Linked DNA regions of Homo sapiens: regions 2, 3, 4 and 5 are each reported to be linked to region 1. The links are microRNA targets in miRTarBase. Many come from high-throughput screens and were not tested one by one. Region 1 holds a microRNA gene; each other region holds the end of a gene's coding sequence.

Evidence for each region. The annotated mature microRNA hsa-miR-4709-5p reads ACAACAGUGACUUGCUCUCCAA and lies in region 1 at 3,369-3,390, opposite strand. An mRNA with a match to its seed (bases 2 to 7 or 8) in the 3' UTR can be bound and repressed. Matches are read on the target gene's strand: a 7mer-m8 pairs with bases 2 to 8, a 7mer-A1 pairs with bases 2 to 7 and ends in A, and an 8mer does both.
Region 2: the mRNA of NALF2 is a reported target of hsa-miR-4709-5p. Seed matches in the 3' UTR shown: 8mer at 3,106-3,113.
Region 3: miRTarBase lists IER3IP1 as a target of hsa-miR-4709-5p. Seed matches in the 3' UTR shown: 7mer-m8 at 2,372-2,378.
Region 4: miRTarBase lists RASSF4 as a target of hsa-miR-4709-5p. Seed matches in the 3' UTR shown: 7mer-A1 at 3,085-3,091.
Region 5: the mRNA of VSIG10 is a reported target of hsa-miR-4709-5p. Seed matches in the 3' UTR shown: 8mer at 5,825-5,832 and 7mer-A1 at 5,930-5,936.

The regions. Positions count from the first base shown.
Region 1 is chr14:74,476,807-74,483,010 of GRCh38, forward strand. MIR4709 (microRNA 4709) reads right to left here and starts at 3,398; the gene lies at 3,327-3,398. It overlaps NPC2 (NPC intracellular cholesterol transporter 2), which reads right to left. Exons shown (of 5, transcript NM_006432.5): 4 at 3,896-3,973; 5 at 3,134-3,482. The coding sequence ends at 3,468. It also overlaps a transcript of SYNDIG1L not described here and the pseudogene RAP1AP.
Region 2 is chrX:69,528,227-69,534,430 of GRCh38, reverse strand. It overlaps NALF2 (NALCN channel auxiliary factor 2), which reads right to left. Exons shown (of 3, transcript NM_015686.3): 2 at 5,267-5,438; 3 at 1,923-4,860. The coding sequence ends at 4,475. Among named protein-coding and RNA genes, the nearest start is that of NALF2, 27 kb to the right of the region's middle.
Region 3 is chr18:47,153,507-47,156,506 of GRCh38, forward strand. It overlaps IER3IP1 (immediate early response 3 interacting protein 1), which reads right to left. Exons shown (of 3, transcript NM_016097.5): 3 at 1-2,726. The coding sequence ends at 2,671. Among named protein-coding and RNA genes, the nearest start is that of HDHD2, 4.5 kb to the left of the region's middle.
Region 4 is chr10:44,991,294-44,997,497 of GRCh38, reverse strand. It overlaps RASSF4 (Ras association domain family member 4), which reads right to left. Exons shown (of 11, transcript NM_032023.4): 10 at 5,496-5,593; 11 at 1,607-4,229. The coding sequence ends at 4,169. LOC124902530 reads right to left here and starts at 3,462. Exons shown (of 3, transcript XM_047426129.1): 1 at 3,327-3,462; 2 at 2,557-2,693. The coding sequence starts at 3,462. ZNF22-AS1 (ZNF22 antisense RNA 1) reads left to right here. Exons shown (of 4, transcript NR_126421.2): 4 at 3,292-3,566. RefSeq lists enhancers at 4,774-5,273, 5,274-5,775, 5,805-6,204.
Region 5 is chr12:118,064,231-118,070,287 of GRCh38, reverse strand. It overlaps VSIG10 (V-set and immunoglobulin domain containing 10), which reads left to right. Exons shown (of 9, transcript NM_019086.6): 8 at 1,691-1,911; 9 at 3,594-6,057. The coding sequence ends at 3,649. The region is part of intron 1 of LOC124903030 (a long non-coding RNA gene); the gene reads right to left. Among named protein-coding and RNA genes, the nearest start is that of WSB2, 6.1 kb to the right of the region's middle.

The sequences.
Region 1 (6,204 bases):
TTCCATGGCAACCAACACCCAGACCATTTAGTTGCTAGTCAACTGACAGCTGTAAGTGAATCGGATTCAGTTTAGAATCTAGGGATAGGCTGAGGAATTCTCTTCAGAGAAAAAGACACAACCACCCAAAATGACTCAAATCCTTCAAAGACTTTCAGGCAACATCTGTGGAGATCCAGAGCCACTTTCTACTTTGGGTCACTCAACCCTGTCTCCCCCCAGCCCCATTCCCAACACACACACACACACACACACACACACACACACACACACACACACACACAACCCTGTCTCCCCCCAGCCCCATTCCCAACACACACACACACACACACACACACACACCCTCGCCTGAGTGTTCCAGGCCTTTAAATAAGGCATACCCCAACCTCTATTTCCTGTTCTGTCTCTTCCTTGGGAAAAACACTTGTTTAACGTGACTTTCACCTTGGCGACTTTCTTACACGACTCCTTTTTCTGTGCTAATGCTTTTCTTATATACTGTAACCCTGTCCTTGTACCAACCCATTTAACCATTGCTTTTTGGATTATCTGAAGTGAATGGCTGATCCCAGATCATTTTCTCTTAGTTGACCTCACCTATTTCAAGCCACTCTTCCTATGTCTGGAGGGTGTTCTCAGAGAACAAGCTGTTTTTATCAACCTTTCCAAAGCATAATCAAGATCACCCTGTTTCTTTTCTGAAAGACTTTGTGTTAAAAAAAAAAAAGATCACTCTGTTCCTTTTAAAAAAAGTCAACTAAGATTTAAAAACCAAATATGCAGGATTTAAAATTACTCCATGCTTGTTGCTTTTTATTAGTATGAAGATTTGACTGAATACTAGTCTTCATATTTAACCTTTTCCCAAACTGGAGATATGAGGTGTTGGGTTCCCTTTATTCTATAAGCAGGGGTGCCCCTCATTATTATTTCAACAATTAGAATCTGGGATTTATCTGTCCTGGAATTCATGTAAGAGCTGAGCCTCCAAAACCTGCTCCGTGGACTAGAAAAGCATGAGACGGTCATTGGAAAGAGGATGACCTTTTTGATATACCTAAGATTCAGTGCTTCTCAATGTTTTAATGACTCACGGGGGCGTCTGTGAACTGTCTGTAGAAGACGACCTTTCAAACTAATCCCCCCACGGGAGCCCTACCTAGCTCACGGCTGCAGGCTTCATGTAGCCCCGCGATGGCTGGCAAACAGTCACAAGCTGTTGTGTTCCCCTTTTGCTCTGATGGAAGGGTATAAACTAGCCGAAATACTTTTTAATTTCGATTTCTGAAATATCTACTTATACTCTTTGTCTTTAGTGCTTCCCCACCCTTTTCATTATCACTCCTTACAGGAGCTTTTATGGACCTTTTAATCCTAATCGACCACCCCACCAAATTTTAATACCGCAGATATAATATGTATCTGTTTATGTATTATCTGTCTGTTCCTGCTTTACACATAAAAAGATTAAGAATTTTTTTGTCCCTAAGAACAAATTTTCACAAAGAATGCAAGTTATAAACAATGAAAGATATACAGTATTAAAACATTGTTTCAAATTTGAAGAATAAGTGGAGGAAAGAAAAATATATTTTAGAACTTAGATATGTAAATTATTTCCAAAATAGTTTAACACTCAAACTAGTCAGCTGTATCAAAATCAATTCTCCCTGAAGTAGGCACTGTTCCTAGCTAGAGGCAAGTACTCATTTTGCATGGTATTGTGAGTCCTGTCTTCTTTTAACACAAGGGCAGAGGAGTATGCAGGGTGGGTAGCTGTTAACTTCAAAGGAGCTAAATGGCATGAGAAATCTTCTGGGAATAGGGAGACAGTGGACACATGAGAATTGAGCTTTTCCAGGCCTTTCAGAAAGTTCTTGTGCACAGAGGATAGCCTCATCCTTCTGAGGAGACATCATCAAATCTCAGATTGAACCTTCTAATTTTCCTGCTATTTGTAGACAAAGAAGAATGTCTGTCTCCCAGAGTGACAGCTAACATTTAGAGAGTATATACTATAGCCAGGGTCATTCTAAGTGTTTTACATGCCTCATCTCATTTAGTCTTCACAGCCCTATTATTATTAGTCCTATTTAACAGATAAGGAGACTGACACACAGAGAGATGAAGTGATTTCAAGATCACACTGGTAGTCCTGTTAATTGTTGGTGCCAGGATTCAACCATAGGCAGTCCGAAGCCAGAGACCCGCACAACAGTTAACAGCCTCAGGAATTCACACAATTCTGATACATCTAGAGTCTGGTATGGGAGACAAGGTGGACTGTCACTCTAGACTCAATGTGGCAGGATACACAAAAGATCTTAGGTAAAAAGTACACTGGTTGACTGGCTCCTAGCATTAACTAGGAAAGCTTGGCTGTTGATAACTGTATTCCTGATCCATCACTGTCCCCTGGTGGTTTTCCTGGGAAACTCACAGACCAAAGAAATCCAAGGGTCTAGTGAAATTAGTGGGATGAAAAGAACTGGATCAAATCAATCACTTGCTCACAAGCACTTTGTATGAATGTTCCTTCCTTTTGCCCTAACAATGGATGACCTAAGGTCCATGTTATTCAACTCAATTGTGAATGGGGTTGTAATCCCTGTACCACCTAAGAGCTGACTGCTAGTATACTGACTCAAAATAGGTGGCAAAATATATGCCCATGATTATACTTGTACTTTAAGATAGGAAACTCCAAGATTTAATTAATTTAGCCATTACTTGCTACAACTTCACATTTCATTTTTAAGCTTCTAGGCTTTCTTCACAGCAGTGTTCCCAAAAGATCACCATGCCTCATCCTAACCTGTAATCCCTAACCCCTACCTGCCCTCCCCACCAAATTCAGTTCCTTCAACCTTTCAGGCGTTATTATTCAACTAGGTGATTTTTACTTTCACTGCTTCTTTCGAGCATGCTTGGTGGTATAAGATTGTGTCAAATAAAGCAAAACAAGGCCATTTTATATAAAATAGATATGGTCTTACTGGACAAAAAGGAGGAAAAAGAGTTTCTGAAAAAGTCATGTCTTCAGTGCACTCTGGGACCACGGAACTGGGGGCCTGCCTTCCATGGTTCTAGCAGAATGTACCCTGAAAGGAGCAGGAGAAGACCACAGCCCACATGCAGAAGACAAGACAAACGAGTTTTTATTTATTCAAGAGTAAATTTCCAGGTGTAGAAAGAGGCCACAAGTTAATGTTGTTAAAAAAAAAATTAAACATCTGCTAACCAAGTGCTGCATTTAATGAAACCACCTAAGACAGAAAAAGAGACATGAGACAACCACTGAGAACCAGCCACCCGGAGCTCAGTTTCTGCTACAGAGCACCTCCTCTTCAACGAATCACTGGATACCATTGGAGAGCAAGTCACTGTTGTTGAAGCAGCAGAGCTGGAGGTGCTGTCAAGAGTCTCAGCAGACTCATTGGCCAGATGCACCGAACTCAATGAGGCACTTAGAGATGAGAAACCTGTGGATGTAATGTCCCAGCTCAGTGGAAGTGGTTTGGAACCTTTCCTCCACTGTCAGGGCAATAACCCTAGGGCAAGTTATCAGACATTCCTAAGCAACCTCCTTCAGGTCCTGTCTGGCTGGACCTTCCTTACTCCGACAGAAAAAAACCAATGAAGACAGTTAAATCAATCTCTACAGTCTCACTCTCTCTTCTTTCCTTCAACCTTTTTTTTTTTTAACAAAGGATATTACAAAGGCAACAGTTCTGAGCTCTCAGGAAATAGGGTCTCAGATGCTTTTAGAGGTTGAGAGGCATAAAACAGCAGTCTTGAAATTCCTTTTATCTTATGGCACTGATTTAGTTTCAGTCTGATTTCTCCTCCACTTTCTTCCCTCCACCCATGCCCTCTCACCCCCAGATAGACTTACGATCTGTACTGGGATTTCCCAGCAGAAGAGACTTTGGTTTTTGTCATCCTGAAGTTGCCACTCCACCACCAGTTTTATCTGGAGAAAGAGAAAAATAATTGAGAAAAATGAAAATAGGACCTGACTTCTATCCATAATTGGTTTAACTATGAATCCTAGATGTACAGTAGCAAACTTCCTAACTCCTCATACTTTTTTTCTTAAATCATGAGGGCTGCTTAGCATGTGGGCACAGCTTACAGCCTTAAGAGAGTGAACAAAGTTATACTTGTGATTTGATGCTAGCAGCACCACATACTAACTTGGTTAATTTATCAAATGTAATTTCTAAAGCATTCTCTTCTCTCTTAGATCAATGGCATATAAATGAAGTGATACGGTTTGGTTATTTGTCCCTTTGAAATTTCATGTTGACATGTGACCTCCAATGTTGGAGGTGGGCCTGGTGGGAAGTATTGGATCATGGAGGAAGATCCCTCATGAACGGCTTAGCACCGTCCCCTTGGTGATGAGTGAGTTCTCACTGACTTCACATGAGATCTGGCTGTTTAAAAGAGTCTGGGGCCTCCCCCTTCTCTTTCTTGCTTTAGTGCTGGCCATGTGACACGCTGGCTCCCCTTTGCCTTCTGTCCTAACAGTAAGCTTCCTGAAGCCTCACCAGAAGCAGGTGGTGGCACTATGCTTCAGGTACAGCTTGCTGAACCGTGAGCTGATCAAACCTCTTTTCAAGTTACCCAGTCTTAGGTATTCCTTTACAACAAGGCAAATGGACTAACACATGAAGGCTTACATGAATAATTTCACATTTAAGCAATTTCTCATGTATTTGGCAATCTGATCCAGCTTTTTCCCAATGTAACCATGAAGAGCAGAGAGTAAAAAAAATTTAGATTCTTAGGTATAAGGAAACGTTCTTGTTAGCTAGAAATGGAAATGTCAAAGCACAAAAGATGGCCTAGAGAAGTCTGTAGCTGTATGAATAATTTCAAGGATGACAACCTTTTGTAGCAATATACTTTCAGTTAACGCCCTTAAACTGCTTTCTAATAATGTACTTCATCAGAAATCCCTGCCTTGACTTGTTACACTCATATCACGTGAGTGGTCCCTTCCAATTCTTGATAACTCACTGACACTCTGCAGGTCCTTTCTTATGTGGACATTAGCTTACTTGTCACTAGTTACTACCTCTCTTTTGTACTCTAATGTTTCTTCACAATGGAACATGTGAGTGGCACTGATATTCAGGTTCTTGAAACTTGCCTTGTGAGTTTTTCCAGACTAGTATACATTAACTACTGCTTCATTTAGTGCTTAAGCAGTTTGAGCTATTTTTCAAATTAAATGTAACTCATTTAACAGACAATAACTACCATACATTAAGTACCTACTACGTATCAGGCTCTGACTAGTCACTGCATACGTAACTGAGGTTCAGACATGCCCATGGTTATGTGGATATTCATCTACTAATCTGTCCCTGACCTCTAAGGTCTCCAACAGCCCTTAAGCACAGACATCCTATATTTGAGTCTCTTTAGAATGTTCTTTAATTACTTACCTTTCCTAGAAAATAAATGGCCAGATATTGCTCCTGAGTTCTACTTGATTTCAAGAAATGCGGCTCTTTTTCTTCATGGAAAAAGGCCATCCCTCTATTTCCTCCATTCTTATCAAGATACATATCTTTAATACAGGTCCACTGCAGCAGGATCTACCTTATGAGTGCTTGGTAGAAAAAGAGGTAGGTGCAGCAGGGATGGGTCAGAGGTGAAGGTGGGGATTGGAGGGCAGAAAGAAGGCTGGAAAAAGCTACCTCTCTGCCATGGAGCTAACAAACTACTGCTCTCTTGTTTTGTTAAGAGATTAATGGAGAAACCAGGATTTTCTGATGACAATGTTAAGACAACTTGGATCTTTAATTATTTGGTACCTGGCTAAAATCTTTTAACATTGCACAGGCTTTGGAGTTATAAGACCCAGCTCAAAACCTGGGCTCCACTGCTTCTTAGTGGAGTGGACTCTGTTCATATTGCATAACTTCAGAGGCTCAAATTTCTTCAGCTGTAAAATAGAGATAATATCACCTCTACATAGGATGGTCATGAGATCCAAGTGAAATATTGTATATAAAAATGGCATCAGCCGTTGCTGTGCAGAGCCGAAGCAGGAGCCGCAGCTGGGAGGAGGGAGGAGGGAGGAGGGAGGAGGGAGGAGGAGGTGGAGGAGGTGCCAGACTGGGGGAATCATCAGTATTTAAACAGACCACATCACGGGTGAGCTAGTGGTCCTTGGTTCAGGAGGTGTTG
Region 2 (6,204 bases), not on the chromosome of region 1:
TGGTGATGGCAGCAGTGGCCCATCTACAGTGGCCACTGCCAAGATGTCGGCTGCAGCAGGAAGGTGTGGTCCAGGCCTCCTGCTCCACAGAGCAGGTAGGAGCCCTATCCCCCAGGCCTGGGCGTCCTACTTTACAAAGCAGGCAGGAGACCCACCCTCCCAGGTGGAGCTGCAGCTGCCCAAGTCGTGCCTGCAGATCTGAGCATCCCCGTGCTCTTGAGGGGCTGACAGCAGGCAGGAGCCCTGCCCTCCTGGGCACAGCTGCAGCTGCCCAAACCACGGTTGCAGACCTGGGTCTCCTGCTCCATGGAGCAGGCAGGAGCCCTGCTCCGCCAGGCACAGTGCAGCCGCCCAAACCATGGCTGCAGACTCAGGCATCCCAGCACTTGTAGGGGCCCAGGAAGGCCCCCCTGCGCTCGCAGGCTCAAAAGTGCCTGCTCCCGCTGCCTGCCTTCTCCCTGCTGCTGGCGCCTCTTCTGATCTTGGAGCAAAGTTGGGCCAAGCCTGGGCACCATGAACAGCAGCAGAAGGCAGATAGGTTCCTTGGTGAAAGGGGGCGGGTCCCCGGTGAGGCCCCACCTTCAGGCCAGCAAGGGTCTGAAGGCTGGGGGCCAGGCTGCCAGTCCCACAGACTGGAGTGGGAACTTGTGGTGCCTTTTCTGGGCCTGCCCATGGCTGCCCATGGGCCAATCGGTGCACACTTCCTCCCCTCTGAGGCCCATAAAAGCCCTGGGTTCAGCCAGAGTTGAGCAGATGACAGGATGACCAGCTGCAGTGAGGAGCTACCCTCTCTGCTGAGAGCTTCAGAGACCTGCAGAGATGTCAGGACTACCAGCTGCAGAGAGGAGCTACCCTCTCCAGGGCCTCCTCTCTGCTGAGAGCTGCAGAGATGACAGGATGACCTGCCTGCAGAGGAGCTACCCACTGTGGGTCCCCTCTGAGCTGTTCTAACACTCAATAAAGCCCCTCTTTGTCTTGCTCACCCTCCACTTGTCTGCATACTTCATTCTTCCTGGATGCAGGACAAGAACTTGGGCAAAAGTGTCACTGACCACAGAGGTTTCCGGCCAGAAAAGTGACACCCCAAAGATGCCGTAACAATGGCGCTGGCTAGACTTGGAACTCATATGGTCTGGCTCCGGCGACCATGCTGTGACCTCCATGTTATGCTGCTTTTGGGGAAGTGGAGTGGGCTCATGTTTTCTTGGAAAAGTAATTTGGCAGCTCAGTCAGGACACCAGCCTCTCTCCTGACCATGCTCTCCTTTCCCCATTTATGTGAAAGCAGTGTTAGTGATGGAGAGCCCTGTCTTCCACCCCTCCAGCAGTTGTCGCCAAGTGACCTTCCTTCTGTGGTGGGACGATGGGTCTGGTTAAGAGGTGTAGGAGAGATGAGGCTGGCAGACTAGAACTGAAGGCTGCAACAAAAGCAAGAACTGGCAATCCCCAGGCCATGTAGAGCCTACAGACTTGTTTAGCCCTCATGGAGGTAGGTTTGTTAGTTTTTATACTTGAGCCAACATTTATGAATTAGGGGGCTTCATGTTAGAATCCCCAGTCCTAACTTCCCTTGAAGAATGAGAAGATTGGCAACACTGGACCTACATTCCCCAAGACAACCCTGGGCTTCAGCTGCCTCCTTTGCACATGTCCTGCAGTTCTCAGCACTCAAATTGGAGTCTGCACTTTTCCCCAACCTGGCCTACTTCACTCTGTACAGTGATCTGCCTGATCCCTGCAGGTGGCTGGCTTTGTGAGTCCTTGTCTTGAATGGTCTACTACAGTCTACCCTTTCTTCCTGAGATTTGAGCTGACAGAGAGCTGGGCACAGGGTCAACATCTCTGGTCCCACCCCCTCCCCAAGCCACAGACTTTCCTAATGCAGCAAGCTCAACTCCACAGAACAAAGCCATGAAGGGAGGGTTATCATCAAGTCTTACCATTTATTTCTTTATGGGGTTAAACAAGAGCAGAGAGGCCTCTGCCCCACAATGCAACAAAACAGAAAGCAGTACATATACAGAGACTCTCACCGAAACACAGAGGCAGGGTAAGAGGGAGGGCAGAGACAACTGAATCATAGCTGGGTAAGGGAGGAAGGGATGGGGGACTACTAGGAAACCAGTTTGGAGACTCAGTCATAGGAACTAGTGCAAGAAAGTCCTACTCATGAAGCACAGTGTAGAAAATGGCATAAGAAAGCTGCCCGGCTCTGCTGTCTGTGATGGAGGGCAGGGGCAGCCGGAGAGGTGGTGGAAGATTAGGGTGGTGGGGTGGATGGGGGCAGTCAAATGACTTTGAGGTGGAGTGAGGTGCCCCTTTCCCCTGCCACTGGGCAAGGCCTTGGGCTGGTCTGAGCCAGGGGTCTCCTGGGCACTTGGTGAGGGGGAAGAGAGGATGGGAGTCTCCAAGGGTCCATTCCCTGGGGCCATATGGTTTCCCTTTACTTCCCAGTCCCTTTTCCCCTTCTGAGGATGCAGGAGTTAGAAGGCAGTACCTAGGGTCTCTCTGGAGCCCAAGCACCTGCCCCTTTACTTATACATAAGCATGTCTGGAAAGGAGCCAGCACCTCTTCCCCTCCCCAGCTGAAAAGAGCACTCTAGGGATGGGGTATGTGACCAGGCCCAAAGTGCTGAGGGCCAAACGGGAGTGTGTAGGCAGGGCACAGGGGTAGGGTTGGGGGATAGGCTGTAATAAATGAGAAAACTGGCAGGGAAGGACTCCCCAGTCTCATGTAATCAGTCTGGGACCTAGCCGAGGCCCATGAATGATTCCTTCTCCATTCATCCCTAAGCTGACCAAGGCCAGCTCTCCCTTCCCCATCCGCTTCTTGGTTTCACTCTCACGCAGCTCCAGGCCCGCCCTCCCATTCACTCACTAGCATCACATCCCAGGACACAGGCCCTGCTGGCACTAAAGGCTCCCTGGCCTGTCCCAGGTATACAGCTCTGGCTCCCTTTCCTGTCCATTCGTATCAGCATTCAGATGTCCCAGGCAATGTGGGATCCCCCCTACTCCCCAACCCCACACAGCAGACCAGAGCAAGGCTAATGGCTCCCAAGGGGGCTCTCAATGCCTCTTCTCTTGTCCAGTCCTCTAGCCTGACTCAACAGTTTCTCAGCCAAGATATGACAGCACATTATCTTTAGTCAAAGGGTCTTCTTGCCAGTCCCTGGACTTTCTCTTGCAAGAGGCCGGGGTGACTGGAGCAGAAGACCCTGCTACAGGGTGAAGAGGAGTATGGGTGTTTCGCAATTGGGACAGTAACCCATAGAGTCAGGGATGGAAAGGTGTGAATACTCTTTGGTAGGCTGGGGACGGGGACAGGGTGGGGATAGGGGAGGCTCATCTCTGGAGAGCTCTGGGGCAATGCCACCAGGTTCTCCTTCATGGAGGCCTGGGCTAGGACAAGATAGGGGAGTATAAGGACCTGGGCCAGGCCTGACCCACTTGGGCTTAAGTCCCTCCTCCCCATGGAGATCGGAAATGGAAATGTCTTTGGCCCCAAGGCCAAGATCTCCAGGGCAAGAGTGGCCCTTGGGAGTATGTGCACCTTCTGTAAGATATGGTCCTTCAGACAGCGGCAGTCTAACCATGTGCCTGCAGCCTTTTGTTTTGAGGCCCAGCAACTCAGTTCCTGTGCTCTTTCCCCAGAGGGCTCCTAATGCAATTCTCACTGATTTGGGGAGCAGTTCTCGAGCCTACCTCAACACTTATCGCCCATCTCCCCAAAGCCGGGTGGCAGTAGCCTATTCGGCCATGTCTTCAAGCCCTCTGTCCACATTTCTCCTCTCCTCTCCCCCTTCCGTATCTCCACTCTCTTTCACCATTCATTCTGTACCCCTTTCCTGCCCCTCATTGCCTAGGGTGGTGGGGCACAGCTTAACTGGGGCCCCGACCTAGCTGCAACTGTGTGCACCTCATCTCCCAGCCTGGTGCTTCACGTGTGATGGTCCCAGGTGGGGCAAGGTGTGCTGAAGTGGCAGGAGGGCCATTGCACTGTCTGCCGTCGCCTGTAGGGATATGGGCAGGAGGGAATTAAGGATCTTGGCAACAAAAGGAATGTGGAGTGGGGGAAAGAGCTTCTCCCCTCTGTGCCCCCCAACATTCCCTGCAGGGCCAAGGCTGGGTGAGCAGCCTCCTTCCCTGGGGTCAGGGCTTTTGGCAGGGGTGGGCATATCCAGCCCCCACTTCCTCCCTTTTTTTGCTAAGCCCCATAGATGGGAGCTTGGGAGGGGTCACTTGCTGCTCCTGCCTTTTTCTCCTGGATGAGTTTTGCAGCTCCCTGAGGCCCTCTGGCCATTCTGTTGGAGCTGCTTTTGGGGTGGGGGTAGGTTGGGGGGGATGTGTCATTCCCCCATTTCCCCCGCCCCCACCTTATCCTACACCTCCCATGGGAGGAGCCCCCTCCCCCCCAACCTGGGGGAGCTGGAGCTGATGTCAGTGTGGTGGAGGTCTGTCCTCCCTCCCTACTGTCACTCTTCCCGTGTCAGGCCCTCCTCTAGGGCAGGCAGTGTCTCCAGCCCCAATCCCCCACCACCCTGGTTGCTGGAGAAGGACACCACGGTATGGAGGAGCATGAGAACAAGGACGCAGAGCCGGATCCTGCTAGGGCTGAGGCGGGAGCCCCCAGAGACCGGCAGCAGGGCGGGCTTGTTGCTGACACGGCCTGGGGGATCATGATGGGGGTGGTAGTGATGGTACTGTTGGTGGTAGTGGTGGAAATAGGAGTGGTGGAATTGCTGCTGGTGGGTTTTGGGGGCCTCAGACTCCTTGAACTTCTTCTTCTTCGCCTCACAGGAGACCCACTGCACGTCACAGCACTTGGTTTCCAGACGCTTTGGTGAAGTATCCAGCAACCCTGCCAATGGATAAGGAAGGTGTGGTGGGGTGCTCGGGGAGCTGATAGCTATGCCTTACCTAGGGAGCAAGTTTCCAGAGCTGGGGCTGCTCAAGTAGCCTCATCTAAGGCTCCCTCCCCACAGCCCTCGACACTTGCCCTTTCTGAGCCCTTCTTTCCTGGGGACCCCAGCCAGTTTCTTTGGGATGACTCCCTGGACATGTTTTGGGCAGAGAAGGACACTCTGGTCTTTTTCCCTATTCCACTTGGCCCTATCCCAACCTGGGGACGTCACTGCCCATTCGTCCAGCCACTGGCCTTCTTCTCACCTGACTCCCCTGTTGTTATCCCTGCTCCCAACTCCTCTGACCTGATGCCTGCCCTGGGCCCCCGGCCTCCTCCCTCTTCCCCAGTGCCCTGCCTTTACCTGTACAGATAAAGCCAGGGAGCCCTCCGTACACCATTTCCTCATTGTCGGGGAGTATAAAGGGGCACCGGGTCTGCACCTCCAGGCAGTATTGCTTGCAGGGCACCCAGCGCTGGCATTCCTGCTGGGTCACGCTGAAGTATTCTGAGCACAGCCAGGCCTTGTAGACAGCCTGTGGGGAGAGGAAAGAGCATCAGCCCATGTGCCAGCCCCTTCCCACCTCAGAGGAGAGGGATGGGAGGACTTACTTGTGGTCTCTCAAGGGGGCCTCACCAACCTAACCCCAAGATCCAGGGGGTAGAGAGGAAGAAGGGCTTGGATCAAGGCCACTGCATCTTACCTAAGATCTCCGATTTCATAGCCAGTACTCCCAAGCACCCCAGTCTGCAGTCATCCAAGACTCAAAATTTGTGTGTTGGCAAAGATCACAAAATTACTGGAAGGTCAGAACTGGAAGGAGCCTTGCCAATCATTCCATGCAACCCTGTCATTTTACACTTGGTCCAAGGAAGTATCTGACTTGTCTGAGACTACCTATATATAATGAGGCAAATGTCAGTTCTGTTCAATTCAGCAAACATTTCTTTGGCTGATGGTATTGAGTTTCTAAATTCAAGAAAGAGAAAGAATAATCCTTGCTTTACCTCATTAGGGTGTTGTATGGATGAAATAATATGGCATATATGAAAATGTTTTGTAAACTCTGAAGTGTAATGTAAATGTGAGGGGTTATTTTTAATAATAAAAAAAAAACCAGGAACCTGCCTTACCAGGCAACACATGTGCCTTTGAGCTCTACTTGATCCATGCTCTGCCCTATTGGCTTCCGCTCTGGCATGGAGCAGACATCAAACACACTGCTACGTTTCATTTGGAACCTCTGCTTTGCAGTTTCACTTCATGGGTATGCTTCCTGTCCCTCATCTAGTCCACTCCTA
Region 3 (3,000 bases), not on the chromosome of region 1:
AAGCCTAGTACCCAGTAATTTTTCTGGCACTCTTTCTCACCCTCCACCCTCAAATAGCCCCCAGTGTCTGTTGTCCCCCTCCTTATGTCCATGAGGTCTTATCATTTAGCTCCCACTTATAAGTAATAACATGTGGTATTTGGTTTTCTGTTCCTACATTAGTTTGTTAAGGATGATGGCTTCCAGCTCCATCCATGTTCCCACAGAAGGTATTATCTAATTCTTTTTTATGGCTAAAGCAGGGATTTTTATAAGATACTTTTTAGCTATATTTTTGAAAATTTAGGGTTTTATGGAAATGCCTTGGGAAGCCTGACAAGAGTGCAGTGGAGGCTGAATAGTGAGCCTTTGAATCCCAGCTCTACTTCAACTAAAAACAAATAAATGGACCTACTCTCATCTGGTTTAGATACGGGAATGTTACAGTTCTGTGTCAGAATTCCTTTGAAAATCTGGTTCTGCTGTTAACTATAAAAGTTTGAAAACCACTGTACTTGATTAGCGATGAATTTGGTTAATATCTACAGACTAGAGCCAAGAACCTTCGCACAGTTCAGAGACATGCAAACACAGGGCCAGAATACATAAGGACTATAAACATCATCGGTATTTGGAGTCCAGAATCATCACAAATTGTTAATCCTGGTAATAGATAAAGGGGAGGACATGGGCAGGCCAACAGGCACTTAAGTTACTGTCTACTAAAATAACACACTCTGTTTACTGAATCACAACTGCTCTGGGGAAACCAGGGCTGACCAGTGAAAGCTTACAGACCCCTCTTCAGCCACAAACTGGAATTATGAAGTGGCCTCCAGATATGACATATTTTGATGTTCAGTTCAGTGCTTCACTTTCCTCAGAACTACTTGGCTACAGAATACTTTGATCCTGGCCCTTCTGTGACTGCTCCCTGATGGAATATTTGGACAAAATCCCAACACTGAATTAAGATGAAGGTATGCTGTAATGTCTTATATGAAAAATAACATCAGATCAAGGTCTCTCTTTTCTTTCATTTTAAAAAATTTTGTACTGCTCATACCATATGGGGAAATGGGCCTGCCCTCAAGTAACTGCTTCTTTTGAATCTTTTCAGTAGCTCAAACTTGAACTCAGGCATCAGTTCTTTGTAAGGCTAAAAGAACACGGCCTCTAAGTACCAAATTAGTCATTCACATGAGCCAAGTAATCAACTAAGAATCCTTGGTACTTTCCTTGGACTAGCTGCAAGCCTATAGTCCAAAGATCACTGATCTCTAACTTAGGAAAGGCCAAAAGGTACTTAATACCTGCTCCATAGTTTTAGAAGTAACTGAAGTCATGAAATAAAAGGTGCTCATGAGTCTTCTGGATGTATGTCAGCAATTCAGTTAATTCACTGAAGAAAAAAAAATACATGTAAATATTTACTTTCATTAACTCTATACTCGGCAATTTTACAGCAAAGAACATATAATAAGAGGTGTTCACCCAAAATGGAGATTAATGCAGTTAACACTGACAGGTTTATACTAAGGTACAAAAACAAGTGCTTGACTTAGAAATTTAACTTTATTTACAAATGTTCTCCTATAAACAAAGATGCCATTCTACACCTTTAAAATATTGTAACTGATAATTTCCATAAAAACCATTTACATAGTTTCAACCTTTCTGCATAAAACTGTATTATGAGATAGGCAAACAATCTCACAAGATGGTCTGAGACATAAAAACAAAAGACAACCTATCCAGCATCAATGTCCTATTGACAAACTCAATGAAGAATTAAGAATCACACTCCACAATGTGCTGCTCCACCAAGAAATAGAAATGTAATGATTTTTTGAAAGGTAAATGCTTCACAATAAACAGTCTTCTTGGGTAGTACAGTGTAATTGTGATTGTTTAGGACTGCTCTTGTGGGCTAATATTTACGCTGTTGTTTTTTTTAAATCATCATTGTAAAAAGGGCAGACTTATAGATTTTTCTGACAATGAAAATCTGTAGACACTGGTCTGGTCTCATCATTCAGGCAAATTAATAAAATAACAAGTGCATGGAAAGAATGTTAAACAAAAACATAATCATCATGTGACTGACAGAATTCTCCCTGAAATCAGAGAATATTAATACTCAATAGTATGTATAAATTTGAATTTATAGCTGAGACAATAGACAAAATAATTAACCAAGGAGCTTAAAATAAAATTATTCAAATTACCTATTTATCATTTTATGTGCAGTAATTACTTTTTAAAAATCCTTTTAATTTTATCTAGGGATAACCACTCACATCATGGCTAAGTTGCAAGGAACTTCAAAACTTTGAAAAAGAATTTCATCCCTGAGAAGTGAGAGATAGAAAAATATCTAAAAAAAGAGAAGCAACAGTCTTGCACCCTTTTAACAATCTCACCACAGCATGAACTACTATTAACACTGAGCAATCAGATATTCCAGTCCTGGAGAGTTACTGCCTTTCATGATCTGATCTTTTGTAATGAAACTACAAGTGCAACATTAAAAAAAAAAACAGATAAATAGAAACCCTGGTTTTATTTTCAGCTTTACATTTTTGACAAGTGCAAGGTCAGCCAGCTAAGATATAAATATTCCAATAATGACCAAAGTAATAACTTCTACTGGCATGTCCTCTTCTGAGTCTCCATTTTCTCCACTGATATTCATCCAAATAATAAAAGTAACACAATTGCAATTGAGTTTACTATTATCAATGGCACTGTAAAGAGAAAAAAAAAAGTTTGTTACTATAAAGAAAAAACAGAGAAAAAACCAGAAAATAATAATTAGCCTCCAGGAACAATAGAAATATCTAACAATATGTCATCATAATCATGTTGTAAAAAGTTATAACAAAGAAACATTCTAAAATACATTGGATCATGAGATCCAAAACTTATTTTAAAGAGAACTTGTATAACTGGGAGTAAGGGTTGCACTGGAACAGCTAGATCAATGTGAAACATCTGTGGATAGTCCCGGTGCAACCCCAA
Region 4 (6,204 bases), not on the chromosome of region 1:
ACCCAGCTGGTGTCCCTGCAGAAATGATTGCTTGGTTGGTGTGTGGGGAGAATCCCTCACCCCGTTTGGTCACAGAAGTCTTTTGTGATTATTGCTGCTGAGTGAGAGAATAGTAGAAAGCACTTTGTTTTCTTCCACACAGAATCCCCATTTCACAGATGAGAAAACTGAGGCAAGAAACTCGCCCAAGGTCATGCACATTTGTAAGTGGCAAAGCCAGACTTTGAAATCAGAAAGCCTGGCTCCAGAGCCTATTAACCTCTCTATAACAGTCTATCTCCCAAATGGGATTCTAGGCAATTTTTATGCAAATTAAATTATTGAAAATGGTCACGCATGATATTTACAAAACACAAGGGAGAAAGGGAACAAGGGTGTGGGAGGCAGGGGGTGGACACAGTCTGGGCATCTTTCTGCACATATTTCTGGGGATTCTGGCCCAAGAGAGGCCAGATCCCTTAGTGGCTGGGACATCTCTGGGAAACTACCCAGCAGGGACCAGTGTGTCCCTGAGCCCAGTGGTATTTGAAGGGTTCATTCCAGGAAAAAGAGTCTTCTGGGGTGAGAAAAATCCTGGCAAGACAGTTTCATTTTCCTATGTCTTTGTCCCCTGCACACCACTGGCTTGCGCACACACACACAGACACACACACACACACACACACACACACACACACACGCTGTCTCAGCAGGGAGCACTGCTGCCTTGGGTCTGTGTTTGGCAACATGGATCCCCAGCCCAAGTGCCAGAAAGGCAGTTATAGGTGTGGCTCATGTGCGGTAACAACAGTGGTCCGTCTCCCACCAAGAACTCTCAGCCCAGGGATCCTGAACAATGGTTCTTTCCACCAAGCCTGAGACTTGGCTTTCTGTTTCCTTTGGACTCTCTGGGAAAGAAAACCCTGGGAGTTCCCATTCCTAGGTCTGAGAAAACATCTCTGTTAAAAGTTGACCAGGAGGGCACAGGGCCCTACCCTGCACAACGTGAGTCTCAGGCAGGGCACGTGAGCAGCTAGCCTGATCCCAAACAATCGCAGCTCTCAGGGCCTAAATATAGCCCATGCATCTGGCTGTTTTTATACTCAGTTGCTTGGCTCTGATCGACCAAGCTTCCTGTCTGATCACCACTGAGGAACTGAGGGCAGGGGGATGCTGCCCACCACTGCACCTGGCAAGGATATCCCGCTGCCCCTCCGCAGCTGCAAGGCACCTGCGTCCTACACACCCGGGACACATTTTGCAGGGCTGGTTCCTCCACAAATCATCTGGTCAGACTGGATAAGCTTTGGGCCTTGTTTCCATGGGACTAAGGGGCCAGATGTATCCTGGGTGAACCCTGGCTCTATTTTGCCAGTGGGAAGGTCTTTATTCCATTTTCTGGTAAACATTCCAATCCGGTAGCATATGGTTATCACCAAAGAAAAACAAGATGTTTTTGATCCCTTCTGGTAATTTGTTCTGGGCAAACAAACTTGTTTTTCCTGAGTCCAGTCCTTTTGCAATCATGCTGATTTCATCCTGTGCTGTTTATTATTCTCTCTGGTTCTTGAGGCCTGGCCTGGCAAGACAGTCCTATTTTAGGAGACAACACTCTCCCATAGCAATCTTTGCTTTATCTTCGGATACGTTTATTACCTGAGACACTAGGTAGCCAATGGGGCATATGAGAAATACCCTAAGCTCTATGTAGAAAGAAAGCGGGAGCTCCCCACAGGAACCAGTAGGAAACCACAGAGACCAGCCTCTAACGTTTGAAATTATGGGGTTGAGGTGAGCTGAATTTGCAGCTTTTCAGATTGCCTCTGAACAGCAAATATGATGTTGATTTAGAAAAAAAGGTGTGAACTCCTCAGCTGATTGCAGAAGTGTACCTTTTCCCTTTTTCTGAGCCACTTGCTAGTGATTTTTCTGACCCATAACGTTCAGAAATTAGATTGATAACACCTACTTTAAAAGTGAACTTATCCGAAAAGGCCTTAAATAATATTGTAATAACTTTCAAAAGCAAACCAACCAACCAAACAGGCTGGTACTTAGGGAGGGTCTCCTGCTCCACTGGCTTCCTGTGTGCCAGGACCTGGCCTGCTCCTAGCTGGCAGGTGCATCTTGGCCTGTGACGCCACATGCACTTCTTAGCCAACTCTGCCTTGGCCTCCACCTCACTCCCAGGAGCTTTGCCGGTTCGTTGCTCAGCTGATCTCTTGACCCTTCCAGTGTCTGGCCTTCTTCTCCTGATGAGAAGACCCCTAGACACAGGACAGACTGGCTCCATCTTTGTGCCTCCAGGGCTGAGCACAGGCCTGGCACAAGGCAGTCACTCAGTTACAGCTGAACAATGGGACAGGAGCTGTCCTCCACCTGAGATTGTAAATAATAGCTTGGGAGTACAATTACCTGGGAGCTCCTGTTTGATTTGTTTTGTACCCTCTCCTAGGCCCTGCTTCCATCCCACCTGAGCCCCTGGCCTGGAAGATTCTTGGGGCCCTCCTGATGCTAAGATTCTGTGACTCGGGGTGACTCTATTGCTCATCATCCAGGTCACCTCTAGGCTCCCACCAGTGACGCCTGCGTGTTCCATGGCAGCCTCTCCTCAGGCTCCACCCTAGTCCCCAGGGCATGCACAGAAATGAAGGAGTCATGTCGGCTCCTAGAGCAGCGAGTTGTGGCTCTTCTGCCAAACATGGCCACACATCCTTTAGGATAAGAGTTTCAGAAGTTAGAGCCGGGGGTCAGGGTGGATGCACAGAAAGCAAAAAAAAAAAAAAAAGCTTGGTTCTCACTTCTTCAGTTCAATACAGCACACCTTTATTGAGCACCTAAGGATCTATGCTGCCAGAGGAGGGCAGAGTCGACAAAACAGTGGGCAGGCCTCCCCTGCAGCTCTCTGTGTCTGTGATGATGGAGCTGGGTTGGGGAAATCCTGCTGTGACATTTGCCCTGACGCAGTTCCGCACAGCATGGTGGCTTCCAAGCTATGCTCTTGATGGGCACCCGTAAGGAGCTTCTACATGCATTAGAGATGGAGCCTCTCCTATCTTTGCAAGCCTTTGTGGTTCTTCCCTTTAAATCTGCCATCCACGGACCTCAACAGGAGAATAATTTGGTCTTCAGTTTGCTCTGTTTTAGACAAATACTTCACATGACTGATGTAAACTGTTGCATAGTTTCGCAAAGGCTTTCTCATTCATTCCTGAAATTCTCCATCAGTCACAAACACAAATTGTTCAGTATCTGGGGAATTCAAAGCCCTTTCCTCAAAACAGACATTTCTCCTTATCATTCTTCCTTCAGGGGAAGTATTGAAAGTCATTGAAAGTCATCCCCACCCACTAGAGGAGAGAAACGCAAGCCCAGAAAAGGCAAGAGGTACACAGGCATCCACGGGACAGTGGTGATGGGGCTGAGCACTGCCTTCCAGAGCTGCTGCTGGGCATTGAGCGGGCAGCACCCTCTCAATGCCATGTGGACCCTCCTCAATGTGATTGAATGACCGTGTTTCTTGCAGCAAGCTCCTTGTAAGAATCGCTTTAGGTCTCTCTGATGAAGTAAAGATTGATTTCTGCAGAGAAAGTGAGATACTTGTGGCCTTATTCCTGGTCTCACCTCTGTGTTGGGGCTGAGCTGTGCGAGGCTCACAGGGTGATATTGGAGGCTTAGAAGCCGGGGACACTGTGGCAAGGTGATGGCTGAAAGCAGGCTAGATCTCATACCTGCTGGCAGGCCCTGCTTTTCCCAGCAGCATTCCTGTGGGGCAGCGTGATATGAGGGCAGACAAGAATCTCATATGAAGGAAGAGGACAGGGGCTTGTGGACCCACAGGGGCTCTGGGACAGGCAATGTGCAAGCAGATGAAGCCTAAGCCGCAGGGGCTGGGCCAGCACTGCTCTCCAGTGCAGGAGAGGCATGGTGTGGACAGGGCTGGCCACACAGATCTGACCCAGCAAGTTCCTGGCCCCTCAGGCCTGGGTCGGCTTCCTGTGGGTGCTCATCTTGGAGCCAAGAGCTGGCTGTGGGAATCATGGTGCTCAGGCTTCAGAGAGGTAGACACACAGGCACTCGATTCGTCAGGCGGTGGCCATCAGTCAATGTGACCGGCCGGGGCCAGCAACCAGGGCTCAGTGTACACCTGCCACTGCTGGGGACTTTGGAAGAGGCAGGTGTTGGCCAGTTACTTGGCCTCCACCAGCTGCTCCAGGCGCTGCAGCATCGTCAGACGCAGGGCTTGGAACCTGGAGGGAGACATCGCCAAGAGGACTCACTGAGGCCAGACAGGGCAGGGAGGTGGGCAGCAGAGCAAGGGACCTGCAGATGGCCAGCTCAGGAGATCCCTGCAGCAGCCTCATCTCTCCTCTGCCAAGGAGGGGGAAGGCTGTGGCCTGCGCCTCATGAGGTGCAGTCAAACCAGGCTGTGGACTGCACAGAGCATCAGAGCAGAGTGTTGTCATTTCTATTGCAGACTCTAATACAGACAACAGCACACTGGAGTGGACAGGGCGGTAGAGCAGAGATCGGGAAGCCCATGTTTCAGCCCAGATTCTGCCATAACCTATGCGGCAACCTTCCTTGTGCTGGGCCTCAGCGTCCACTCTGTACGTTGAGTGGACCCACTAGTTGCCCCCCAGATCCCTTTCAGCTCTCAAATCTTACGGGGTCAGGACTGACTGCAGAATGGAAGATTCCCTCTGACTTTGGTCTCCTCTGCCTGTTTGGGGTCTGGCTGCACAGACAGGAGCCTGTGGAGGATGTGGCTTTCCACGGGTCATTCAACCAGAGGCTAACATCCATCCTTTCCCCACACACCCCAGGCCCTCTCAGTGAGCTCCTGCCCTTTCCTTCCTAGCTGCCTCCCCACCAGCCCTGGTGGGGTGCCCTCCACAAGTCCTGGACCACACTTCACTTTGCTGAGGGGGAGACGTCATTGGGACTACAGCCTGGCTAACTCATGCATCCGGACCCTGGCGTGGTGTCCCCAGGAGCTGGCAGGTGAGACCTGCTCACCTTTTCATTGAACTAGCCCTCTGCACCTGAAAACATCGGCTGAGGCTGGGAGTTCCAGCATCTGCCACTTTGGGGAAGGCTCAGAATTCCCACTAGGACAAAAGGCCCTAATCAGGCCAAGTCTGCCTCAGCATGCCTGCTCCTTGGAGCCACATCACCAGCAGAACTCAGAAGCTTGACCCAGCGCCCACTTGGGTTCCTGCCTGACTTTCCTGCCAGGTGTTCTGCAGCTCATGCCTGCGCTGGTGAGGATGCCAAGACTGGATGGGTGATCGGGGCTGTGTCCCACTGTTTTGGCAAGCTGTCACCCCAGCGTGGTGGCAATACCGAGCAGGGGGCCAGAGGGTGATGCTGGGGAGCTAGGGTTAGCAGGCCTTCCCGTACCAGGGTACTGGTGCCCATGGAGGAGAGAGACCTCCCAGCCGGCACTGGTGCTGTGCTTTGCAGACCTGCCCTGATGTTCAGGACCCATGACTGTCTGTTTAAGTGCTGCTTACTTCATGGTCAGTTTGATTATTTCTCTTTCTTCCTCTTCTTTTAATTTTTCAACAAAACTGTCCAGCACCGGCATTTCAAACTTAATGTACTGAGCGACCTAGAAAATCCAAGAACATTTTAATGTGCTTTAAATTCGAAGCCAAAAGTATGTTTTCTTTTCCTCAAGGCTTCCATAGTGGCCCATCCAGCCAACATCTTGTATCCACAGAAGGAGCTGCCGCTTTTCCCACCCCACCCCCACACTGCTGTGTTGTGTACAGATGCCAGGACGGGAGCCTATTACTATCTCAAAGGCAACTGTTATCCCTGGGAGGAAATATTAAACTGAATATTAGGAAGAGCATTCAGTACAGCAGCATTGTCACATTGGGTGCCCTCTGGGCTAGGGGGTAGGGAGGTGGGAGCACCATTGTTTCTAACAATGGAATGCAATTGCAGCAGCCTGAGGGATACGGGGTCACTAGGCCTCCTACTTGAGGTTCAAACCCTGTAAGCATCTTCTATGCAGAGGAGTTTGGAAATGCACTCACTGTCTGGTCAGAACTCAGGCTGTTGGTAAGACTTAAATATCTCCCTGTTTTCCACAGGTGCGAGGTAGGGCCTAGTTAAAAAGCCTTTGCATAGGTCTCTCACATAATGACAACAAAATACATTCCAATGAAGGAAAAGACTTTACTTCCCTAGAGGAAAAGGACAGGCCATGGTTTT
Region 5 (6,057 bases), not on the chromosome of region 1:
GCACGAGCCACTGCACCCAGCCAGTTTTACAGTGTTTTGGAAGACTACTATGAGCATGCCCAGAACCCCCTCCCAAAAGGAAACCCCAGTAGGGGCGAAGGAACCAAACGGAACTTGTGTATTTCATTTCCTAAGGAGATTCTGGGTGGGAGCAGAGTACTCTTCTCTATGATCCTATGGAAAAACAGTTCTTTACCTCTTCAAAATGACAGGATATTATTGACCTGGGACCATCTTTCGTAGCAAAACATTACCTTTACTGCCCTGTATTGGAGGGCCATTCTTAGTAAGTCTGTCATTCCCTGGGCTTATTTCTCACTGGAGGCATCAGTGTGGTGTAGTAGGAAAAGGCACTGAGACCATTGGACCTGGGTTCAAATGACAGCTGTGCCATTCCCAAGCCCTGTACCCATAGAAAATCCCTGACCCTTTCTGAGCCTTAGTCTCCTGATTTGTTTCACCAGGGGGTTTGTGAAGATTAAATGACAATGTAACACAGCTCCTCGGGCAGGTGACTGACCTGTGGCGTTCATTCTTCTTCCTTAAGAAATGCATAGTCCAGGCCGGGTGCAGTGGCTCACGCCTGTAATCCCAGCACTTTGGGAGGCCGAGGCGGGTGGATCACCTGAGGTCGGGAGTTCGAGACCAGCCTGACCAACATGCAGAAACCCCATCTCTACTAAAAATACAAAAAATTAGCCGCATGTAGTGGCGCATGCCTGTAATCCCAGCTGCTTGGGAGGTTGAAGCAGGAGAATTGCTTGAACCTGGGAGGCAGAGGTTGCGGTGAGCCATGATTGTGCCATTGCACTCCAGCCTGGGCAACAAGAATGAAACTCTGTCTCAAAAAAAAAAAAAAAAAGAAGAAGAAGAAGAAGAAGAAATGCACAGTCCAGGCCGGGCACAACAGTGGCTCATGCCTATAATCTCAGCACTCTGGGAGGCCAAGGTGGTTGGATCACTTGAGGCCAGGCATTCGAGACCAGCCTGGCCAACATGTTGAAACCATGTCTCTACTAAAAATACAAAAATTAGCCAGATGTGGTGGCGCATGCCTGTAGTCCCAGCTACTTGGGTGGCTGAGGCAGGAGAATTGCTTGCACCCAGGAGGTGGAGGTTGCAGTGAGCCAAGATTGCGCCACTGCACTCTAGCCTGGGCAACAGCGCAAGACTCTATCCCGAAAAAGAAAAAAAAAAGAAATGTATAGTCTGAAATGCAAAGTCTGGCTGGGTAGGCAAGCTAGTGAGCTGGTGATAAATAAACTATAGCATGGACTCTAAATGCAGTCATTAATTTAGGTCTTTAGCAGGAGGGAGAGGACTTTACCTGGGTCTTCCAAAATGAGGAAGGGGAGAGATTTTGGTAAGTAGAGCAGAATGAGGGCATTTCAGAAAAGGAAAAACATTTGTCTACCTGCTGTAAGGGGACATGAAATGGTAGATGCCTGGGACAATATGGTCACCTGCCCAAGGAGCAGGGGAGTAATAAACCAGCATGAGATACCATCATCTGAAGCAATTTGTGGCAGCATCTCTGCGGTTACCACACCATCACCTCATTACTTCACCAAGCTGTAATTTTCCATATTACTAATGGGGTTGCAAAGAATCTAGTGTTTCCTATTCAGTGAGGGCTGAAGTTGGGAAAAATAAGAAATCTTCTTGATTATTTTTCCCCTTTGGAAATTAGGGGACAAAACATGGATGATGTCATGGTTTTGGTGGATTCAGAAGAGGAAGAGGAGGAGGAGGAGGAGGAGGAGGAAGATGCTGCAGTAGGGGAACAGGAGGGAGCACGTGAGAGAGAGGAGTTGCCAAAAGAAATACCTAAGCAGGACCACATTCACAGAGTGACCGCCTTGGTGAATGGGAACATAGAACAGATGGGAAATGGATTCCAGGATCTTCAAGGTAAGCTCTTTTTCCTTAAACAAACAAACAGAAAACAAACAAAAAAAGGCGCGTTGGCTCACGCCTATAATCCCAGCACTTTGGGAGGCCAAGGTGGGAAGATCACTTAAGCCCAGAAGTTCAAGACTAGCCTGGGCAACATGGTGAGACTCTGTCTCTACGAAAAAAAAAAAAAAAAAAAAGAAAAATTAGCCGGTCATGGTGGTGTGCACCTGTGTTCCCAGCTACTTGGGAGGCTGAGGATCACTTGAGTGTAGGAAGTCCAGGCTGCAGTGAGCTATGATCACACCACTGCACTCCAGTCTGGGCAGCAGTAGGAAACCTGCCTCAGAAAAAAAAAAAAAAAAAAAAAAGCCCACAAACCTCTGAACTGCTGCGGTGAGCTTCCCAGCAGGAAATCTCTAAGGGGTGAGTTTAGTTTTTTTAAAAGGCTGGGGAAGATAGCTAAACTTTAGTCTAGAACCTGAGACTACTATCAACTACCAACATGAAAATCAAATTGACAAACACTTATCAAGGTCCTGGTCTAGGGTAGGCACAATATTGGCATTGTGGGAGAACAGAAAATAGAGACTGGTAGTGTCTGCATGCAGGGAGCTTTACAAGACCAGTTCAGGCCAGGTGCGGTGGCTCACGCCTATAATCCCAGCATTTTGGGAGGCTGAGGCAGGTGGATCATTTGAGGTCAGGAGTTTGAGACCAGCCTGGCCAACATGGTGAGACCCCCATCTCTACTAAAAATACAAAAATCAGCTGGGTGTGGTAGGTGCCTGTAATCCCAGCTACTTGGGAGACCAAGGCAGGAGAATCACTTGAACCCGGGAGACGGAGGCTGCAGTGAGCCGAGATCGTGCCACTGCACTTCAGCCTGGGTGACAGAGTGAGACTCTGTCTCAAAAAAAAAAAAAAAAAGGCCAGTTTAGGGGAACAAACTAAAACCTGCAGGGGAAATGGAAACAGGAGCAAGATTGAACCAACACACTGAGAGAGCAGTAGAGGAGCTGTTGCAGGAAGATATTTGATTAATTGCCTGATGGACAACACATTTAAAAATTATAGGCACGGTTGCTCATGCCTGTAATCCCAGCACTTTGGGAGGCCAAAGTGGGTGGATCGCTGGAGCTCAGGAGTTCGAGACTAGCCTTGGGAACATGGCAAAACGTGTCTCTACTAAGAATACAAAAAATTAGCTGGGTGTGTGGCATGTACCTGTAGCCCCAGCTACTTGGGAGGCTGAGGTGGGAGAATCACCTGAGCCTGGGAAGTTGAGGCTGCAGTGAGATGAGATCGTGCCACTGCACCAAAATTTATAGGACCTCAGAGAAAGATAAGAGCCCGGAGAGGTGTGCTGGTCAGGGGAAGCTTTATGGAAGAGGTAGACATGAAGCAAGGCGTTAAGACGGCTGAGTTGGAATAAGCAGAAAGGAGAGAGGGCGTTTCAGGTGAGGGGAGGGGCGTGAGCTGAGGACATGAAGGGTGACTGGTATCAAGCATGCCTAGAGGTTCTGAATGTAGAAAACAGGTGAAAAGGGGAAAACACACGCTGCCCTACCTTCTCCATGAGATCCCATTCTGTGGCTCACCAGGAAAGGACTAGAAATCACTGAGATGATTGATGACTGACGGTGGAAATAGAATCACACTCTGATTACAAAGCATTGGGTTTATTTCCCCCCATACAGATGACAGCAGTGAGGAGCAAAGTGACATTGTTCAAGAAGAAGACAGGCCAGTCTGAAGAAGAGGATGGTCCATGGTTGTCTTGCTCTGAAAGCTTGGAGAGCTACATTGAAGACGAGCTCTTCATTCAGCTTTGACTCCACCTGCACCCCTGGCGGGGGCTTGCACTAACAATGTTTGGGTCTCAGCAAAAAACAAAACCAAGCACACACATCTTTCCTTCCATGTATTGAAAAACATTGGTTTGATTTGCTCTAAGTTTTCCCAATGATGTTTAAAAGCTTTGAGAAGGAAAGCTGCTTTGGTGTCTGAGGTGCCACTTCTGCTGTGAATCCTGGCTTTATCCAGGTTGATCTACTGTGATAGATGCTGATTTAGAGGGAACAGAGGTCAGGGAAGCACTGGGTCTTGGTGCCTTTTGCCGCTTTTTTTTTTTTTTTTTTTTTTTTTTGAGACGGAGTCTCCCTCTATTGCCCAGGCTGGAGTGCAATGGCACGATCTTGGCTCACCACAACTTCTGCCTCCCAGGTTCAAGCGATTCTCCTGCCTCAGCCACGGCACCTTGCAAATATCAGCTCCTTGGAACAGGTGAAGTTCCAGGTACCAATGCCAATCAGAGGAAGGCAGTTTGGTTCAGGCTTTGGAGTTAGAAACACCTGAAGTTGAATCTGGGCTCTGTTGCTTCCTTCTTTCATGGGCTAGAGCACGACTCTTTACCTCTCTCTTGGCCTCAATTTCCTCACCTGTAAAATAGATGAGGAAGCTGCTCACTTATTATTGTCTCGTTCTGAAAGCTTGGAAAGCTACATCGAAGATGAGCTCTTCATTCAGCTTTGATTTGACCTGTACCCCTGGTGGGGGATTGCACTGGCAACATTTGGGTCTCAGCAAAAAAACCAAGCACACACATCTTTCCTTCCATTTATTGAAAAACATCTTTGTAAGATCCATTCATTGAAAAACATAATCCATTTATTGAAAAATATCTTTGTAAGATCACCTGCTAAATATGAAAATCTGACTTGAATTTGTACTCTTTAAAGTTGCGTATCTGCTCTAGTGGGCAGGACCTAGGGCTTAAAGGGGAACTTCCTTTCTCCATTTCTAAGAACTGGGACTCTAAAATGAGAAGCTGGTTGTCTGAAGTAACCCTGCAGGTGTGGTTGGGGAAGGTCTGTTTTCTTGGATGAAGGAACTAAACTAAGCATATCAGAGCACTGTCTTAACCAGTTTTATTTCCCTGGAGATAGAATTCTTTTAAAAAGAGTTAGGGAGCTGGTAATAGGAAGTGCCTTTCATTATAACTACATTTTGCAGAGCTTCATATTTATATACAAGCCTCCTAGGTGATACACTGTTAGCTTGCAGACTTTCCTATGCTTCATTTCTCCTGTTGCTTTCAAAGAAGGCAGGAGACACGTTTAATAACGGAGTATCTGGTGATAAGAATTGCTTGGGCAAACCAGCTCATCTGGACTCTTTCTCAGTCTTGGAAGTGGGAAGAGGAAAACTTGTTTCCTTCCTGCTTCTTAAGGATATTCTGAGGGTACACTGATCAATAACACTAAATTTGGAATGAAAATACCATGTGATGAGTTTAGCCTGCTGATGCTTCCAGTAGATCCTTGTATAGTTTCAAGATTTAAGTTTTCCGATTTCATATAAATTTCTTAAAGTCGAGGACCTTATAAGGGTGCAATGGATGTTTGCTAAATATGAAAAACTGACTTGAATTTGCACTCTTTAATGTTGCGTATCTGCTCTAGTGGGCAGGACCTAGGGCTTAAAGGGGAACTTCCTTTCTCCAATTCTAGGAACTGGGACTCTAAAATGAGAAGCTGGTTGTCTGAAGTAACCCTGCAGGTGTGGTTGGGGAAGGTCTGTTTTCTTGGATGAAGGGATTAAACTGAGCAAATCACTAGAAGTATGCCCTGTCCCCTGCTCAGAACACTGGGGAGCTCAAGAGTGGGCTGCAATGTGCACCCCTCAGGAATAGCTGTGAATTGCAGGTCTACTGGCTTTTTGCTTTTTGTCTTTTGCTGCAAGGTACCCCACGTACTTAACCATTCTCAACAGTGTAAATCAGTGTCATTTTAGAATGAGATACTCAGCTTGCTTCTAAAGTCACTGAATTACTGAGTGAGTCTCTCCTTTAGAGTCTTCGGCAACCAAATTCCAGAATTGAAGAGTCTACTACTCAGAGGCAACAAGATTAAAAAAAGAAAACACAAAAACTGTTGAGGTGAAAAAAAAAAAAAACCCTAGCTAGGAACACAGAGAATGTTTTGTAGGATCACTGGGATATTTTCCACAACTTCCTCTTCTCTAGCACACACATCTGTTGATAGGAAATATTTGAGGGTTTTTCCACTACCAAATGGGAGCTTCATGGTCCTGGTGTCAAACACTATAAACCTTTGACCAGCTGAGCTGTGACTGCTGTCACATATCTGAGTCCTGTGTGCA